3 separate regions of the Homo sapiens genome follow, and all the other regions are linked to region 3. The links come from fine-mapping of genetic effects on gene expression. A gene starts in region 3. Each other region holds a variant in brackets. All regions are shown on one strand. Distances are from middle to middle. Region 1 holds the start of LOC105374113 (a long non-coding RNA gene). Region 2 overlaps CPNE4 (copine 4). Region 3 holds the start of CPNE4 (copine 4).

Region 1 (4,241 bases), 230 kb before region 3:
ACAAATTGCCCAGCTGCATTTTCTGTGTTATAAAATTGAAGTAGGGGGAGGCAGTCAGCAGATGCTGGCTATACATTGCACTTAGCCTGGGATGGGGTCAGGACAGCACGGACAGACACTGTTTAATGGAAAGACCTATGTCACAATGCACTGAATTTCTCACAGCAAGGCTGTAAATGACATCAAAATACAGACATCTAAGCTGAGACCCTTAGCATCATCCTCAAAGCACAAAATGTTCACGGAGGGAAACCCTGGAATCTCCCCCTGAAAACCTGTTAATGTGGCTGAGAGCTCAAAACTGAATCATTGAAAACAGTATATTTTATGGACATAGAGAAAGATGCTGCTTTTCTCCTGACAATCTTCAAAGAGGGACCAGGTCATGATAAAGCAAAGCTGAAAGTCACTGCAGAGCAGGTCAGCAACCCACAGAGACAATCTTCCCTAAATTGGCACTTTAATGCCTTGGGTTTTAGCATTCTGGCCTCAGATGGAAAACCTGTATGGACTCAGGACTGGAATTAGAAAATTTTAAGGTTAGTTTGTTGGAGGATTTTCTAAGTTATCTATCCAATTCAGTTTCCAGGGAGGTAGTGAAAGGTTACAAAAATAAATAAAAAGACGAAGAAGAAATGCTTTGAAGCCAGAAATGTTTGAATTCAAATCCTGGCTCTACCATTAGCCAGGTGGATAACCTTGGAATTCGACAAATTACATAATGTCCTAGAGGGATGAATTTTCATTTGAGTATGGTTATGATTGCACCCACATCTGTGAGGATGACATGAGATGTTGCCAGTATCATATTTAGCACAGTGCCTGGCATATAGCAGAAAACAGGAAATGCTAACTCTCTTCCCTTTCTCTGTCCAGCTTTCTAATACAGTCAGTCCTACTCATTTAGTTTGTTATCTCTTTCTAGAGAACAAAAGCAAAAGGAAGTTTTGCTGCTAACTGTCTCTATCAAGTTTTTCTACATTGAAGACAAACTGTGTATGTGATTTGTTCTCCTCAAATGAGATATTCAGGTAAGAATACTCTGAAGGCATAGACATCTGGGACTCTCTCCTGAGTAAAGAATTTAAAATATGAGGACAACTCTATCTGTTCAAAAGATATTTTAAAATGTTGTTAGGCACCTACTTTGTGCCAGGCACTGTTCTAGCCACTGAAAACCCATACTTTAGACAACTCTCTGCCCTTGTGAAGCTCATACCCAAGCTGAGGAGAACATGCTGTGCTCAGAAATGTTTATTGCAGCACTATTTGTAAACATAAGGAACTAGTGACAATATTAGTATTTAACAACGGGGAAATGGTTAAGTAAATTACGTACCTCTAATTGCTGGAACATTAAGCAGTGATCAAAATGGTGGTCAGGAAGAGTGGAAAACCGTAAAGACTAATCTCTTACTAAATGAGAAATTAAAGTTCTTATTAAGGTTTGACTCCATCTCTGAGCATCTGAGTTTATAAAGTCTAGTTACAAGCACAATAAATCAATACATCTTAATTATTTTTCTCACCTTATCTCTTGTGTGCCTATAAATATCTAGAGTCAATTAGTCTCTCTCTCTCCCTCTCTAATACACACAAATCATTATTGATTAATCCATCCCATCAGAGTTAAAGGGGTTAGTTGAAATTCTCTTTTACCACTGAACATTTGTGATTCTCTGATTCAACTATCAGGTAGAAGTTCTGAAACTTTTCTCCTCCCTATTCATTCACACTGGTTTAATCATTACCAACCTGTATATCTCGGTGGAACTCAGTTTGTCTGCTATAAGCAGAACCCGTATGATTTCAGACACAAGAAATTGGGACACTACAGGGAAAATGTTAATGTCAAGCAGCTGGCAAGTATTAAAAAATACAAATTATAAATATCTATAGAATATGTGAACTACTCACAAACCTAGTTATATCTTCCCGAGGTATGACTCGAGCCTTGTGAATAAATGCCTAGAATCCAGCTGTTTTTACTTCATATCAGACTGCTTTATATAACCTGATCTGTAGGACTAGCACAATAATAAACCAAAACAAGGGCTAAATGATCACAAAAATGGTTTTCTTTTACCTTTTCCTGTGTTCTACATCCTTTACAATGTGACTTTCAATTCATCTGCTGAAAA[G/A]GTATCGTGTATTTCCCCATCCCTTGTATTGGGCTGGCCTTGTAACTTGCTTCAGCCAATGGGATGTGGTAGAAGTGGCAGCGTGCCTGTTCTAAACCAAGGCCAGAAGAGGCTTAAATGCTTCTGCTCTTTCTCTTGGAACTATTCCACTGCCATGTGACTAAGCTCAGGCTAACCTGATAGAGAACAAGTGACATGTGGCCCAGTCTTCCCATTTGCCCTTGTCATCAGCGAGGCCTTATCTGCAGTTGGGCACAGACACATGAGAAAGTCCATCTGAGACCAGAATAACTGCCCAACTAAGCACAGCATAAATTGCTGACTCACATAATAGTGAGTTAAAGAAATGGTGTTTTTAAGCCACTAGGTTTTGAATGGTTTATTATTTAAGGGAAATAGTCACAAGCAGACTAAATTCCAAAATGAGCACTATCCTGAGTACTCCCAGATTCATTTGCCTTGAGTCAAACCAACAGAATTCTTATTGCCCATTCTGTGATTTTTCTCTCCTCATTCCCATCCAATCAGCCCATGTATGAATCATACACTACCTGCTGCAAAACTGAAAGATGTGTTTTTCCCTGGGAAGGCCATCGCTTGCTCTCCTTGGTGCCCTGGAAAGATACATTATTTTGGATAGCTAGTGTAAAGTACAATTTTGCAGATGTATGAGATAGGGAGCTCTCGTGCTTCCCATGTTTGTGGCAAGATAAAGAGATGGATGGAAAAATTTAGTATCAGTGAAACCACAAGCCAGTGATTTCAACAATTTTGACACTTCGAATTCAGGGTTGTTTTTGGTCCAATGTGCTGTTCTAGTTATACCTGTCTACAAAACAACAAATTTAAAGGTATTAAACAAATTCGATCCTCATTTATTATTATCTCATACAGTCTGGGTATTGGGTAGGCTCAGCTAAATGATTCTCACTCAGAGTCTCTCATGAAGTTGCAACTAGACATTAACAGGGACTGGAGTCATCTTGAAGACTGCCTCCCTCACATGTCTGCTGGGTGATGCCGGCTGTCAGCCAGAACACCTATAAAAATGGTTTCTTCATGTAACCTGGGATTCCTCACAGCTGGGTGTGAGATGGTAGTGACTGGGTACCAAAAGCAAGTGTTCTAAGACAGATCTAGGGAGAAGGTGCAGCTCTTTCATTGCCTCACGAGTTATATAGTGACACTTCCACTGTGCCCTACTGGTTGAGGCAGTCACAAAGATATGCCCAAGTCCAGGAAAAAGAGAAATAGACTCTGCCTGTCATATCTATGAATGTGGAAAGGTCACATTTTAAGAGGAGCATGTGGAATAAAATGTATTATTGCAGCCTTCTTTGGGAAATAAAATCTTCCAGATGTACATATAAATAATCGGAAATCATGAAATTCCAGTCATTTTACTTTTATTAACATGCAGCTAGAACCATGCTAGTGAATAACTTAGATATTAGATACTGTGCAGCCATATTCAGGCAGGTCTTAAATATAACTGGATGCTTGAAACTTTATCTGAGTCTTCCTAAAAGTATCTGGGAAGTTAAGGAGAACGTTTTTGTTGGCTGGAAGCCATCCTTCCTCATACAACTAAATGATATTTAATTTAAAATATGAACTTTGCCTTAAATATTAATTAGAACATAAAATTAAAATATTGGCCAGGCGCGGTGGCTCATGCCTGTAATCCCAGCACTTTGGGAGCCCGAGGCGGGTAGATCATGAGGTCAGGAGATCGAGACCATCCTGGCTAACATGGTGAAACCCTGTCTCTACTAAAAATACAAAAAATTAGCCGGGCATAGTGGCGGGCGCCTGTAATCCCAGCTACTCTGGAGGCTGAGGCAGGAGAATGGCATGAACCCGGGAGGCGGTGCTTGCAGTGAGCCGAGATTGTGCCACTGCACTCCAGCCTGGGTGACAGAGTGAGACTCCGTCTCAAAAAAAAAAAAAAAAAAAAGAAATAGGAACAATTTTTATAGTTGTCAGCCTGGAGCAAGAAAACACAATAAACTTGGTCAGCAGATGTTAAGACACAAGTGTAGGGAAAAAGTGAAAATTTTATTTAAAAATATCTCTTAGGCACTTTTAGAAGCCACAAAC
Region 2 (4,241 bases), 71 kb before region 3:
ATACAGCATTTTCTGTGACCCGAATGGTCAGTCAGGATGTATGGTTGAAAAGAAACAGCCACTGAAATATTCATCCAATATATTACCCCCTTACAAACAAGCATGTTCTGTTTCTCTGAAAGTACTCTCCTATCCCTGCTCTGTTGTCTATTCCTGACTCTTAAGATCCACACCTAGAGGACTAAAGATAGAACATACAGGATTGAAGGGGGCTCATGGTCCCACATTACAATCCTCAAAAAATGACCTTAAAGACAGACTAGCAGGTGAAAGGGTAGAGACAACATAGGTGACATCACCAAGAGTCACACATACCAAATATCAAAAAACAATTTTCTGTTTATCTCTCTCCCTTCTCCCTTTTCCCTACTCAGATCCAGATCTGCTACTGCATACATATCACCAAGTCATACCCATTCTACTTCCAAACGTTTCTCAACGTTATCTCTATCCCATCTGGCCATATCTAGATCATCTCATTTAATGGTCATTCATGCATTCACCTAGCCAACATTTTTGAGTGCCTAAAAAAGTACTAGATTGTTTGAAATGCTCAGAATTCCATGCATATTCAATTGCCCAGACCTTTGCTGTTCCCCTTTGAGTAGACTCCCCTTCTAACCTGACAAACTCCTATTTGCTCCTCGAGGCCCTGCCTTTTTCTATGATCCCATAGCAAGTTGTCCATGCTTCCATTACAGCTAATATCTATTTCCTCGATGCCTAACAAGTGCCTACTATTCAGCAGGTGCTAAGTCAAGGGTAGATGAAGAGATGTCTTTTCTTTTGCCTTGGAATTGGTTATGTTTCAGGAACCAGTCTAACCACCCGATCTGACAGTTATAATCAGACCATTACTTTATTTTCACTCAGTATTTGAACTTCTCTCAAGGCCCAGTTCACATGCAATGCACCACCACCACAACAAAAATGTGCTCAGACACTCCAGAACAAAACAAAGACCATCCTTCTGAGTCACAGCCATACACAAAGAGCATAGACTGGACTCCTTACAGGATTAGAGAAGACTAGAACTATATCTTGAATGTTCCTTCCTCCCCTTTCCATTCATTCAACAACATTTATTGAGCACTTAATATGTGGCAAGTACTGTTATAAGAACTTAAACATTTATAATTGAATATTTATCTAAACCATGAAATCCTAAACAAATAGATGGACTTCCAGTGGAGAAATGCATCTGTGGAACCCCAGAAACAGTTAAAAAAAAAATCCAGTGAGTAAATACGTTTTCCTGAGAGAGAAAATGGCTTTCAGCAGATTCTTAAAAAGTCCCTGATTCAAAAAAAAAATGTTGTTCTATATTGCCCTACACCCTGCTTAGAATAATAAATATTTATACCTGAACAAGTTCCAACATTTTGTTATTTGCTATATAAAAAGAATCCTCTCTCATTAAAAGTAATGGCAAAGCTTTTGGACTCCTGGCAAGATGGTCAAATAGGAACAGTTCCGGTCTGCAGCTCCCAGTGAGACCAATGCAGAAGGCAGGTGATATCCGCATTTCCAACAGAGGTACCCGGTTCATCTGATTGGGACTGGTTAGACAGTGGGTGCAGCCCATGTAGGGCAAGCAGAAGCAGGGTAGGGCGTTGCCTCACCCGGGAAGTGCAAGGAGCTGGGGGAGCCCCCCTCCCTCAGCCAAAGGGAAGCCATGAGGGACTGTCCTATCTGTCCCAGATACTATGCTTCCCCCATGGTTTTTACAACCCACAGACCAGGGGATTCCCTCACTTGCCTACACCACCAGGGCCCTGGGTTTCAAGCACAAAACTAGGCAGCTGTTTGGGCAGACACTGAGCTAGCTGCAGTTTTTTTTTTTCATACCCCAGTGGCACCTGCAACCCCAGCGAGACAGAACCGTTCACTCCCTTGGAAAGGGAGCTGAAGCCAGGGAGCCAAGTGGTCTCACTCAGTGGGTCCCAGTCCCACAGATCCCAGAAAACTGAGAACCACTGGCTTGAAATTCTCACTGCCAGCAAAGCAGTCTGAAGTCGACCTGGGATGCTTGAGCTTGGTAGGGGGAGGGGCATCCACCATTACTGAGGCTTGAGTAGGTGGTTTTCCACTCACAGTGTTAAGCAAGCTGCCGGGAAGTTCGGCAAAACTCACCGCAGGGCAGCGAAGCGGCTGTGGCCAGGCTGCCTCTCTAGATTCCTCTTCACTGGGCAGGGCATCTCTGAAAGAAAGGCAGCAGCTCCAGTCACGGGCTTATAGATAAAACTCCCATCTCCCTGGGACAGAGCAGCTGGGGGAAGGAGCAGCTGTTGGCACTAC[G/A]GCAGACTTAAATATTCCTGCCTGCTGGCTCTGAAGAGAGCAGAGAATCTCACAGCAAAGCTCTGCTAAGGGACAGACTGCCTCCTTAAGTGGGTCCCTGACACCCGTGCCTCCTTACTAGGAGATATCTCCTAGCAGGGGTTGACAGGCACCTCATACAGAAGAGCTCTGGCTGGCATCTGGTGGGTGCCCCTCTAGGACAAAGCTTCCAGGGAAGGAGCAGGCAGCAATCTTTGCTGCTCTGCAGCCTCCACTGGTGATACCCAGGCAAACAGGGTCTGGAGTGGGCCTCCAGCAAACTTCAGCAGACCTGCAGCAGAGGGGCCTGTTAGAAGAAAAACTAACAAACAGAAAGCAATAATATCAACATCAACAAAAAGGACACCCACTCAAAAACCCCATCCAAAGGCCATCAGCATCAAAGATCAAAGGTAGATAAATCCACAAAGATGAGGAAAAACTGGTCCAAAAATGCTGAAAATTCCAAAAACCAGAATGCCTTATCTCCTCCAAATGATCGCAACTCCTCTCCAGCAAGGGCACAAAACTGGATGGAGAATAAGTTTGACAAATTGACAGAAGTAGGCTTCAGAAGGCAGGTAATAACAAACTCCTCTGAGCTAAAGGAGCATATTCTAACCCAATCCAAGGAAGCTAAGAACCTTGATAAAAGGTTACAGGAACTGCTAACTAGAATAACCAGTTTAGAGAAGAACATAAATGACCTGATGGAGCTGAAAAACACAGCATGAGAACTTTGTGAAGCATACACGAGCATCAATAGCTGAATCAATCAAGCAGAAGAAAGGATATCAGAGATTGAAGATCAACTCAATGGCATAAAGGGTAAAGACAAGATTAGGGAAAAAAGAATGAAAAGGAACAAGAAAAGCCTCCAAGAAATATGGGACTATGTGAAAAAACCAAACCTACAATTGATTGGTGTATCTGAAAGTGATGAGGAGAATGGAACCAAGTCGGAAAATATACTTCAGGATATTGTCTAGGAGAACATCCCCAACCTAGCAAGACAGGCCAACATTCAAATTCAGGAAATACAAAGAACCTCACTAAGATACTCCTTGAGAAGAGCAACCCCAAGGCACATAATCATCAGATTCTCCAAGGTTGAAATGAAGGAAAAAATGTTAAGGGCAGCCAGAGAGAAAGGTAAGGTTACCTATAAAGGGAAGCCCATCAGACTAACAGTGGATCTCTCTGCAGAAACCCTACAAGCTGGAAGAGAGTGGGGGCCAATATTCAACATTCTTAAAGAAAAGAATTTTCAACCCAGAATTTCATATCTAGCCAAACTAAGCTTCATACACAAAGGAGAAATAAAATCCTTTACAGACAAGGAAATGCTGAAGGATTTTGTCACCACCAGGCCTGCCTTACAAGAGCTCCTGAAGGAAGCACTAAATATGGAAAAGAAAAAACAGTACCAGCCACTGCAAAAGCATTCCAAAATATAAAGACCAACAACACTATGAAGAAACTGCATCAACTAATGTGCAAAATAACCAGCTAGTATCATGATGACAAGATCAAATTCACACATAACAATATTAACCTTAAATGTAAATGGGCTAAATGCCCCAATTAAAAGACACAGAGTGGAAAATTGGATAAAGAATCAAGACCCACTGGTGTGCTGTATTCAGGAGACCCATCTCACATGCAAAGACACACATAGGCTCAAAATAAAAGGATGGAGGAATATTTACTAAGCAAATGGAAAACAAAAAACATCAGGATTTGCAATGCTAGTCTCTGATAAAACAGACTTTAAACCAACAAAGATCAAAAAAGACAAAGAAGGGCATTACATAATGGTAAAGGGATCAATGCAACAAGAAGAGCTAACTATCCTAAATATATATGCACCCAATACAGGGGCACCCAGATTCATAAAGCAAGTTCTTAGAGATCTATAAAGAGAC
Region 3 (4,241 bases):
GTATGCACTATTAACACAGGTGTTCTGACTGCATTTTCCAACCCTCCCTCTATTTTATGCACCTCTCTACATGTGAGAACTTTTGACTAACTCTGAGTCCTGACCTGCCAGAGTGACTTTGTCAGTCTCTCTTTAAAAATGGGCAGGTGAATGAGTTCAGCCTAGAAGCAGCAGCTCGGTAAGGGAAATGAAAATATCAGAAGTTATCTAATCACAGCCATAGCCATGCTGAGCTTCATCTTATCTTTTGGTTAATAAAAAGAAATGGGACCTTCCGAAACTTGAAGGGCATCAAATTAAGTTTTTGCTTGCCTCTGGCTTTTTGGGGGATATGCTATGTGGTTTAACCAGCATATACTAACTACAAAAATTGACATGGATTCAAAACACCTGTGTCATAGGACGGTGGGTGTTTGTTTTTTTGTTTTGTTATAAAGCAGAAAATAAAACACAAAGGCCTTTGAGAACAGGGATTGTTAAGGGAATAGAAGAGTATGGAGAAAAGAACACTTTATTTGAAGTTAAGGTAATTGTGTACGCCTGTGTATGTGTGCGCGCGGGGGCGCGCGAATGAGCAGGATTTAGTTTCATTTAAAGATAACATATTAAAGTATCTTGGACAGCTCAAAAGTGCTGTTCAGGAAACAAAACCAAGTGAGCCAAGAAAAACCAGAACAGTGCTTTTAAAATCCCTGGCAAAGCAGCAAGAGGATGAAGAGTTGGTTTTGCATAGTTTTGAACACAGGGTGTAAAGGTGCTGAGGCATCTTTTCCCACAAGTCACTGAAATCCTGTGAGAGTGTGTGAGTGTGTGTGTGTGTCTGTGTGTGTGTGTGTGTGTGTGTAGAGGGAGAGGTTCTCAGATGTCTCTCTTGCAAAGCTTCCCAGAGCACTCTCGCTTCCCTAGCCCCCTCCCGCCTCACTCTGCTCACCTTTCCCCCCTCCACTTCCCAACCACCCACATCAAGCCCTTCATAGATTTGCGCCCCTTGGATCATCTCTGCCGCCTGTGACTTTCCCTGGAGCCTAGCAGGTTCTGGGGCTGAAAGGCAATCCGCCAAGGCGCCCTGGGGCGCCGTCAGATTTGGAACATAGAATGGGAAATAGGGCCTTAAAGCCCACCTACTCCAAGATGAAGGAGGAGCATTTTTCATCAGGGTTTAGCCTGCTCCTCACCGGATGGTAATCAGCACTCGCTTGACTTGGCGTGGACCACCTCCTAATTATCTCCATTGGATTCAGCCCTAACAGTTCTCGTGTGTCTGTGATACCACGCGGGGTCGTGATCTCCTTACTCAGCTGTGGCTTGGTTTCAGTGGTCCCTCCAGTCCCGTCCCCTGTCCCCGTCCCCCTTTCCTTCTGGCTACTTTATTCCATAGAGGAAGAAGCGCTGAAGGACTACGTTGAATCAAAGCACTTGCAAGCCTATTCATTAGTTTTTAACACTGAGAAGAGGCAACTAAAATATTATTAGAACCTCATTGTAAGAAGTGTGGGGGAGGAGGTTGAGAGGCTGAATCCAACCGCAGCCAGGTCAAGCCATTGGAAGGGACTACAATGTCCCACAGCTTTCTCACTGTCAGAGAGGAAGCTGCAACTTCAGCCAGAACTCCCTTCCCCTCCCCTTCCCCGATTTTGAAAACCGTACCCCTTCTTCCGCCTTCGGGACTTCCCTGACCTATCCCTCACCCGTGCCATGCTGTCCCCTCCCCTCCGCGGTCTTTCTCCCCAACTCCATTCGCCCCACCCCACCTGGGCGAGTTGGGTGGATGTCAGAAGGCGAGAGGTAGGGGATGGAAGTCCCTTCAGATTAAAGACGTTGCTTGCTGCTGCTTTTTAAAACAACAACAGCAATGACAAACGTGCAAAGGTGAGCGAGAACCAGTGCATCTCAAAAGTTGGTCTTGCTACGCAGCAGCTCCAACAGACTTTGCAATCACAGCGCCCCAGGAACACAGGAATGAAGAGTTGGCATTTACTTACCTGGGTGTGCCAATCTCGAAGAGTGGAGAGAGAATTCAGCCCGGGACGAGGTCTGTCCCGCCCCCAGGATGCAAAATCCGGCTTTGAAGTGGAGGTGGTTGGTGTGGTAGTTTTGTACTGATGTAAGGGGCGTCGCACCTCCTTCCCCTCTCGTCCTCCGAGGTCAGTTTAGCAACAGCGGCTGGGAAAGGTGCTGAGAGCAGAGTTCGGTCTCTCCGGAAACCCTGACTCCATTCTCGGTGATGGGGGTGGGGGAAGAGGGTGAAAATGTTGGAGATGTCAGGTCGGCTCTCAGTTAACTCGGAGAGTAAAGAGGAGGGTACTGAGAAAAGAGGGAGGGAGTGGAGTGGAGCGAGGGAGGAAGGAAAGGAGGGTGGCAGAAAGAGAAGGGGACGAGCGGGTGGCGGGGAGATGGCAGCTTCTCACAGAGAGATTTCCACCTTCTGACGAATCCCATGCACCCAGCAACCCGGCAAGAGACTGGTTCCGAAACCTCCGCGCGAGCGCCCCCTGGGGGTTGCTGACGGAGACGAGCATTGCCCCGGGAACCCGAGCTCAGGCCCCGCCCAGGCCTTGGCGGCGGCGCTCTCCGTGGTCCTGCCGCGCCCGCAGTCTGGGCTTTCTGCTCAGCTTTGTCGCTCAACTGAGCTCCTGGGGACACTTGATTTAGATCTCCAAGTGCTTGGTCTCCATCTCCACTCTAGGGTGGAGCGGTCGTATCGCGGCGCGGGTGTGGGGGGAATGGGAGTTACACTTTTTGGCACTCACCAAAGAAAACTTCTTAGATGGGTGCTTAACTGTCACCAAAAATGGTAAAGGTGTTGCTAATCTCTGGATCCTTCGTGTCTACAAAACTGTCTGGCGTATGGCAGGAGCCTGGAAATTATTTTTAGTAAGTAATGCATGAGTAAATTAATGGACAAAGAGTATTTTCTTCATCTCATGATGAGTTTCTGAATACATCTACCTCACAAATAAGATAAAGAAATACTTAGGGAGTACTTATGCTTAAAGATAGATATAAATATGCTGTCTTATGTAAGGGGTGACCACTTCCACATGTTTTAAAGCACTTTAGAGAGAAAGTATGGCCTTCCTATTTCAAACTTATTCAAATTCAGACAAATGAACTTATTCAAATACAGGGCATTGTTTCTGATTATGTCTGCTACCATAGACAAACTAGACAACTAAATTCTCTCTGCACATTGGTATTGTCAGACTCACAAATTGGACTTTGGAATTAATGAAGTAAAGTGAATGACGGTCTCTTTCTGACATTGGGATGGTATAGAGTGTGTTACATCTAACGTGGAGGGGAGATGGAAGGTCTTCCTTCTCACCCTATTAAGGGGCTATCTAACAAAGCCTCTCCAACCTGAAGGTTGGAGGAGATATTAGCCAAAATCTTTTCACTAACCATGAAGTTCTCAATTTCAAAGTCCAGAAAAGGAGAACCAATAGGGTAAGGAGGAAGACCCCCTCTTAATTGTTCTATAGAAGTAGACAGAAATATCTTTGATAAACAAAGGGACAACCTTCTGACAGAACACAAATAACATTTTTCTTCTTTCAGTCACCTCTAAAGCCTTTCTGAAATAGGATAACACTAAACATGGACCCTGGAAAGGACCTCAGGGAGCTTCTCTGTACACTGAAACTACCACAGAAATCCTTGGATTTGCTTTGATTGCAAAAACTTGGGTCACATGGCTATGCATAAGTCAATCGTTGTGACCTTTGGATATGGAATTACACTAATGGGCCAGGACTTCCACAATGTCTAGGAGCATGTGATGTCTTCTATAGCACTCCTGGAGCCAGGATGGAGCCCCACCTGATCTACACACATTGCGAGTGAGACACAGGGACAATTCTCCAAGGGATATTCAGGGTCCTCCTACCAGGAAAGGGGAGACGGATGCTAAGCAGGCAAAACCAGTGTATGACTACTAAATATGAAAATGTTAAGTCCAAAAACATTACTTCCAGGTTTTGTTAAGAGGTAGCCTCAGAGATAAACTCAAAATTTGAATTGGATTGAACTTGCAAAGATGAAGGAAGAAGAAGGAAAAGTCATTGTGCATTTCCTTGCATGTTAATTGTATCCTCTAAAATTTAATTTCTATGAAGGCAAGGGATATGTCTGTTTTGTCGTCTTGTTCATAATTATAACCCCAATGCCTAGAAAGGTGTCTACCACCTTCTACATTTATAAAATTAAAAATAATATAAATACCTTAGGGACCATTCAACATA

The links. PIP is the estimated chance that this variant, and not a neighbour inherited with it, causes the effect. A credible set is the group of variants that fine-mapping cannot tell apart.
Region 1: its variant is the best candidate, but not a certain one, in a credible set for the expression of CPNE4 in left ventricle (GTEx, PIP 0.86).
Region 2: its variant is the best candidate, but not a certain one, in a credible set for the expression of CPNE4 in aorta (GTEx, PIP 0.57).

Annotation. Positions count from the first base shown.
Region 1 is chr3:131,802,472-131,806,712 of GRCh38, forward strand. All of the region lies in intron 2 of CPNE4 (copine 4), which reads right to left. It overlaps LOC105374113 (a long non-coding RNA gene), which reads left to right and starts at 339. Exons shown (of 7, transcript XR_007096089.1): 1 at 339-420; 2 at 926-1,031. The variant G/A (reference allele first, on the strand shown) is at 2,142.
Region 2 is chr3:131,961,511-131,965,751 of GRCh38, forward strand. All of the region lies in intron 1 of CPNE4 (copine 4), which reads right to left. Among named protein-coding and RNA genes, the nearest start is that of MIR5704, 22 kb to the right of the region's middle. The variant G/A (reference allele first, on the strand shown) is at 2,299.
Region 3 is chr3:132,032,585-132,036,825 of GRCh38, forward strand. CPNE4 (copine 4) reads right to left here and starts at 2,430. Exons shown (of 16, transcript NM_130808.3): 1 at 1,983-2,430. RefSeq lists an enhancer at 2,010-2,179 and a silencer at 2,555-2,654.